Homo sapiens: one gene and its partner. The protein of the gene in region 1 purifies or fractionates together with the protein of each later gene. This does not show direct contact. Each region holds a gene or a part of one and is shown on either strand. Other genes may lie near its edges.

Region 1 (3,500 bases):
GTCCTTGTTAGACCTTGACTCCTTGGGGTGTTTATAGAGATACATCACTGCTCGTCCAATCCCACTATGCTTCAGGGTCTCCTGGCTCACACTAGGCAGCTGGGGAACATAAACACATACACACATATTAATCACTCGGAAGCTGGGGGTCTTGCTAGTCTATTCTAGAGACCTGGCACATTCACAACAGAACAAATAAAAAATTCCATTTTCAGGATCTACAGACATAGAACACAAAGATACTTTGTGTCCACATCAAAAGTTCAGAGTTCAGGCCAGGCATGGTGGCTCACGCCTGTAATCCCAGCACTTTGGGAGGCTGAGGCGGGTGGATCACCTGAGGTCAAGAGTTCAAGACCAGCCTGGCCAACATGTGGTGAAACCCATCTCTACTAAAAATACAAAAATTAGCCAGGTGTGGAGGCAGGCGCCTGTAATCCCAGCTACTCGGGAGGCTGAGGCAGGAGAATCGCTTGAACCTAGGAAGCGGAGGTTGAAGTGAGCCGAGGTGGTGCCACTGCACTCCAGCCTGGGCACCAGAAGCAAAACTCCGTCTCAAAAAAAAAAAAAACAAAAAGAGGTTGAGAGCTCAGTATTACAGCTGAGTTGAAGTAAAACCTAACAATGTGAGAAAGTATGAACCAAGCGTACTCAGAGGTTAGCAGTTTAATACAGGAGCCAGCACAGGCCTCAGAATCCAATAGACCTAAGACTGAACCCAAGCACAGCCACCTTCTAGCTATGTGACCTTGACGAGTCGTTTAACTTCTCTGCATCTTAATTCCCTCATCTGTAAAATGGAAATAATACACCTACCTTCTCAGTTTACTGTGAGGAAAAAACGAATCAATACATATATAAAGCACCTGGCACAGTGCGTGGCATAGGAGGTTTCCTTGGGAATTCCTTCAGAAGTTAAATAGCTTACCCAAGGTGTCACAACTACGTAAGGTGGCCCAGCTCAAGATTCAAATGCAAGTTCATATGATTCTGAATTTGGTGTTCATTCTGCGTCACATTTCTCCCTGGAACTTGCCCACTACTGTACTACTCTTCTCAGACACATTACAGCTACTCTAAGATTTTTTCCCTTCAATGCGATAGTTACATGAAGTTTTATAAGGTCTTCCCTTTCACGCTCATTTTATTAGATATGTTCCTTTTTTCCAACCCCTCTTCTGGCAGGCTGTAGCAGAGATAACATATAAAAACACTGTAAACTACACAGGTTATGACCATACAGACCACATTAGATAATTAATAAAGAACAGTCAGATTATCTGCCTCTAACCTCTTGCAGGATCTTCAGCAGCTCCTCCCGGATCTTGAGTGCAGGCAAACTCCTATCTGGTAGAGGTGAGAGCCATTCTTTGATGGCAGACATCACACCACTGTCAATGAATGTTTCTTTAAGGTCCTGCCTGCAGTAACAATAATTTTTAAAAATTCTGTGAACCTTGGTTCTACTGTATCTTCCGACTTTTCTTACATATTTAGTGATGTTTCTAAAAACTGCTTTTAAAGCGTTACTCATATAAATTTGACATTTACTGAACACCATTCTGGTTTCGAAAGCAGTATGACATTTAGTTCTTATTTTCCAGAAATGCATATACTTGACAAAGATGATTTGCTGAAAACAAAACAAACTCAAGTTACACAAGATAAATTAATGCTGATATGAATGGTACAGACAGTAAGAACAATTAACTCCAATCTTTTCAACTAAAAAAAAAAAACGTTCAATCTATCAAAATAGTGATTCTTGAACAGTTTTACATGGTGGTGAACCCAGATTTGCTCTTCTCTGCAGGACACCAATGAGACTAGCACTCCACTGGCAGGACAAAAAAAAAAAAAAAAAACTCAATAAAATAATACTTAAATTCCATTTTATGTACTGGAATCAGTTATGTTAATAGAAAAGATAACATTATATACATAAAACCTGCCACAGATAGTTTCCCCTGTTAGAATAGAGGGAGAAATTTTCTAGTTACAGATGCTCTAGGCCATGCTGGTGGCAGCTCACTGATGCACCAATACATTTCCTCAGTCATCAAAAGTAGGCTGTGGCTTAGTTCAAAGAGAAAGCAAGGTTGCTCAGAAATATAAGCAAATCAGGGCCCGGTGTGGTGGCTCACACCTGTAATCCCATTCCAGTACTTTGCCTTTGGGGTGTTGAGACGGGAAGATCGGCTGAGCCCAGGAGTTCGAGACCAGCCTGGGCAACACAGCGAGATCCTGTCTCTAATTAAAAAAAAAAAAAAAAAAAAAGCAAATCAATGAAAAAAGTTAGAAACAAGGATCTACTCAAAAAGGGCATCATTACTTCAGAAGGATCAATAATTGTGACACATTAGAGTCATATAAGCCTTGTACAATGCAGCCTTCAGGTAGGATCTTCCAAGATTTACTATTTTCCATCACACGGAGAAAACAGATGCAATTTTACCAGACCAAAAACTGTCTATAAAGAACAAAATTAGTGGCCAGGTGCAGTGGCTCATGTCTGTAATTCCAGCACTTTGAGAGGATGAGGTGGGAGGATTACTTAAGCCCAGGAGTTCAAGACAAGCCTGGGCAACATAGCAAGATCCTGTCTTTACCAAAAAAACAAAAACAAAACAAAAAAACACAAAATTAGTAGTTTCCAAGTTTTTCTTTCGTTAGTATCAATTTTTTATTTGTTCTGTTTGCACCAGGCATCAAGGCTTAATAAAAATTTATGAAGAAATATAATTTAGGAAATTTTATTCATTATCTTTCTGTGAACCGATAGAAGTCTATCATTATTTAATATTCCTAGAACACCAGTACATCATTTGAATTATCATTCCATGAAAAGGAAAAAGACATTTTAAAGAAAACAAAATACTTACTTCTTAAGGTGCATAACTACAGCAGGCAGTAAAGTTAATTTTTTCAGTGCTGGCTTTTTTTGATTGTTCAACTGTCTGTCTTCCTATTCAGAAAAAAAATAAAGATTTTTTTTTAAAACAGTACTTTTTATTAATATTGAATTCACTGTAATTCTGAACCTTAAAATAACAGTTTTTCAAAGAAACAATTTTTCCTACAAGAAAGAATAATTTAAGATGGATCTTCTGCAGAGCACCAAGCTCTGTATCTGTCTATGTCAGTCAAACCCAAAAAACTATTAGAATAATTGCCTTTAACAACTACAAATTGAGAGAAACAATTTTAATGTAGAACATTAGCATAACTGTCAAATTTTCAGAGTTCATTAAAGGTACAAATTAAAACTGGGAAATTCTGGTTTATTATATTAGGAACAATTTTCCAGGTGTGAGGTTATATGATATTGGAATATACTATATCAAAGAAGAGTTTCAGTATTACTTGGGCAGTTTTTTCTATTTTTTTAAATTATGAAAAATTTCAAATTCTACAAATATAGAATAATATACCTGTTGCATATATTTCAACAACTGAATACACATAGCTAGTCTTCTTTTAGCTACTTTCCCTCCATTCTT
Region 2 (3,500 bases), on another chromosome or scaffold:
ACGTTTTGGATATTGAATTTTTTTCTGAGTTTGGAGTATTTGCGTTAAACTTACCAGCTGAACATCCCCAATCCAAAAAATCCAAAATACCCTAATGAGTATTTCCTTTAAGCACCATGTGGGCACTCAAAAAGCTTTGGATTTGGGGGAGGAGGGATCCTCCACCTGTAAGGACAACTAGAGGTTTCCGGGCTGCAGACCTGGCGCCACCGTGACCGTAAGCCCCTGCAGACCTGGCGCCACCGTGGCCGTAAGCCCCTGACGACCTGGCGCCACCGTGGCCGTAAGCCCCTGCAGACCTGGCACCACCGTGGCCGTAAGCCCCTGCAGACCTGGCGCCACCGTGGCCGTAAGCCCCTGCAGACCTGGCGCCACCGTGGCCGTAAGCCCCTGCAGACCTGGCGCCACCGTGGCCGTAAGCCCCTGCAGACCTGGCGCCACCGTGACTGTAAGCCCCGGATGACCTGGCACCACCATGGCCACGGTTTCCCAAGCCACGGTCTGGAGGAAGTCAGCAACTCCACGCTGACCCCACCCATCTGGTGAAAGTCTCTACCTTCTACAGGAATGCCCCTAGTTTCACCCTCCCCTGGTCCTAACCTCCAAGTTCCATTTTAGTGACTACAGCAATAAACGTGTGCCTCAAAATATTTTTCAAAAAACTAAAGATCAAAAAACACTTAACTTTCGTAGGGTGGACGTCAGCTGCATGCCTGACTGACAAGTTAAACCACGCTGCTCTCTGGGGCCCCAGCCAGCGCCCAGCCTGACCACTGCGCATGGGGAACGGTTATTCCCCGCAGAGCCACCGCCCCCACATTCACTCTCTCTACAGAACACTATGGCCCAATACCCAGGGATGTGTTTAAGGAAAACTGGGATGAAGGGAGTTATTCGGATGTGTTAGGTTAAACAGCATCCTCTAGTTTTTATTCAACTGGGAAAACGCTTAAGTGAGGGCCATTTTTTTTAAAGCCCAAATTGAAACAACCTAATATCCTGTTTTTCAGTACTCTATAAATAAATCCAATAATCTCTACTGAAACACAAATAAAAAAAGTGTATCTTGAATTTATAGCAGTCAAAACAGAGATAAGAAATAAGAAGAGCTAAACAATAAGCAAATGTGAATTCTTCTAGAGAATCAGGAAGGAGGTTACCCACCTTTCTTTCTCGTCTGAGATTCTCGGGACCCAGGGGGCGCATTCATATCACCCGTGCCCTGGAAGTATACATATTTCTTCACAGTTATCAGATTGGGGGCAAACTTCCAGACATCTTCTCGATCATCAATAATGCAAACCATTGAGTCTCCACAAGGAAAGAGATTTCTACAAGTGAAAATGCATAATTTACAAAAAATAATAATGAAAAGTTGTAGTCATTCATCTTGCCAAGCGTAACAGTTTAAGATTCTAATCCACATGTAACCAGCAGACAGCAGGTTAATCAGACGGACACCAACCGCCCCGAAGCCCTTTCTGTTTGGGTCGCATTTAAACCTCAGTAACATCTTCAGTGCTGTTTCCGATTCTCCTTCAGGCAGGAGTTCCCAAACTGTTTCTTAAAGCGCCAGAGTCACTATTTTAGGCATTACGGGCCACGGGGACGAAACCCAACTCTGACCGTGTGGGCGTGACCATGTTTCAATAAAACTTCATGTACAAACAAGGCTGGGTAGCCTAAAGGCCAGAATTTGCTGACTCTGTAAACAGACCAGGCTAGGCGCTGTGTGGCTAATGCCTGCAATTCCAGCACTTCGGGAGGTCTTGGCAGGAGGGTCTCTTGAGCCTAGGAGTCTGACACCAGCCTGGGCAACATAGGAAGACCCTGTCTCTACAAAACATACAAAAGTTAGACAGGTGTGGGGGTGTGCGCCCGTAGTCCCGGCTACTCAGAAGGCTGAAGTGGGAGGATAGCTTGAGCCCAGGAAGTCAAGACTGTGGTGAGCTGAGACCACACTACTGCACTTAAGCCTGGGCGACCGAGCCAGACCGTCTCAAAAACAAAAAAACAAAAACCAGACCCAGTGCTGATGCAGAATTTCTAAGCGGACCTCCAGCTACCTCCATGCAAACCACAGTACCCACCACTGGGGCCTATCCTGGGCATGTCCCCATTCGATCCTATCATTCTGCCTTCGGGTGACTTTTCCCTGTAACACACTAACAGCACCTCTCATTCTCTTTTGCCCTGATTAATCTACTCACTCTGGCGCTAACTAGCAAAAAGGAGGTTTCTGAAGTAAATACTTTCAGATTCTCTTCTTAGTTAACATTAGCAAGCATAGGTCTCACAGTCTGTGGGGACTGGCCACCGAGAACCAGGAAGTGGCTGAAGCTGAGGCTGTGGCCACCAGGCTCCTCGGGAAAACAAGCCACACCTGACATGGTGTTACATCAGCAAGGACGGACTTCCGGGTGGAAATGGGGAAACTCCTCGAATACAGTGGGCAAGAAACGTCAAAGCATATAAAAGAATATTAAAAAGTCTTTGCGGAGGGGCGGGGAGCGGCCTGCCCTGTCAAAAAGGCTCAGAGGAGCTGACAGGAAGGGGCTCTGGAGCTGATGGAAAGGAAGAAATGGCAAAAGGCAAAAATATGGGCATAATAGTCAAGTGACTTAGGATTTTGTAAATTATTAGTAGGATTAACACAAGCAAGCTCCTAAGAAAATTATCAACCTCAGATGCTGACGCTGATGTCAAGAACTGCCGCTAAACCAGTGGCCCCGCAGAGCTGCTGAGCTTGTGCGTGGGGTGGGGCTATTCACATTCCTCTGCCCACTCGGGTCCTTTCGACTGCCACCTCCCTGATGCCATCCCGTCCCTACGCCTGCCCTCCTGGGTTCTGGGCCCGAAAGTCCAGTCGCTGAGTTCCCCAGGAGCCCTGGCCATTCCCTGGATACTCAGAGGCAAAAGGGCCAAATCCTTCACAGCTGGCTACTGTGGGGACACACGCCTGCCTCCTGCCTCTCCAACCACAAATCTCGATGCCAGGTCTTCGCATAGGAATGAAAATTTGGAGGTCAAGGGACTAGAATGATCACATATGCCAGGGTTGGTTAAGCAAACAGATACACAACGTCAGGTGGCGGGCTGACATCGAATCAGTGCCGTCTGACAGAGATGAGGCAGAGAGGATGACAGATACACAACGTCAGGTGGCGGGCTGACATCGAATTGTGCTGTCTAACAGAGACGAGGCAGAGAGGATGACAGTCCCCGCCTCCACAGACACAAAAGCCCAGCTCAAGGGCAGTTTCAGGGCAGGACAGGGCTATTGGGATGGGGCAGAGCCTGGATTGGGGGCCCTGCACAAGCACCAGGGCTCAGGCACCTGGGAGACAGTGGGAGTACAGGTTAGAAAGGAACTTTCTAAGTATTCTGAGGCTAACAATGAAAACTGGAAAGGGGATGTTAAATTCCTAAAAAACATCAATACAGAAATACTGCTCTAGGCCGGGTGCAGTGGCTCATGCCTGTAATCCCAACACTTTGGG

What was found. Proteins that work in one complex are often made in the same cells at the same time.
Region 2: the proteins of IWS1 (region 1) and CTDP1 purify together in Homo sapiens (affinity purification with mass spectrometry; one large-scale study listed by BioGRID and IntAct). This does not show direct contact.

Annotation. Positions count from the first base shown.
Region 1 is NC_000002.12:127,491,990-127,495,489, forward strand, and holds part of IWS1 (protein IWS1 homolog), read right to left. Parts: intron 2,966-3,500; coding exon 2,883-2,965; intron 1,422-2,882; coding exon 1,292-1,421; intron 100-1,291; coding exon 1-99.
Region 2 is NC_000018.10:79,710,803-79,714,302, reverse strand, and holds part of CTDP1 (RNA polymerase II subunit A C-terminal domain phosphatase), read right to left. Parts: intron 1,332-3,500; coding exon 1,165-1,331; intron 1-1,164. UniProt on the Homo sapiens protein: Processively dephosphorylates 'Ser-2' and 'Ser-5' of the heptad repeats YSPTSPS in the C-terminal domain of the largest RNA polymerase II subunit. This promotes the activity of RNA polymerase II.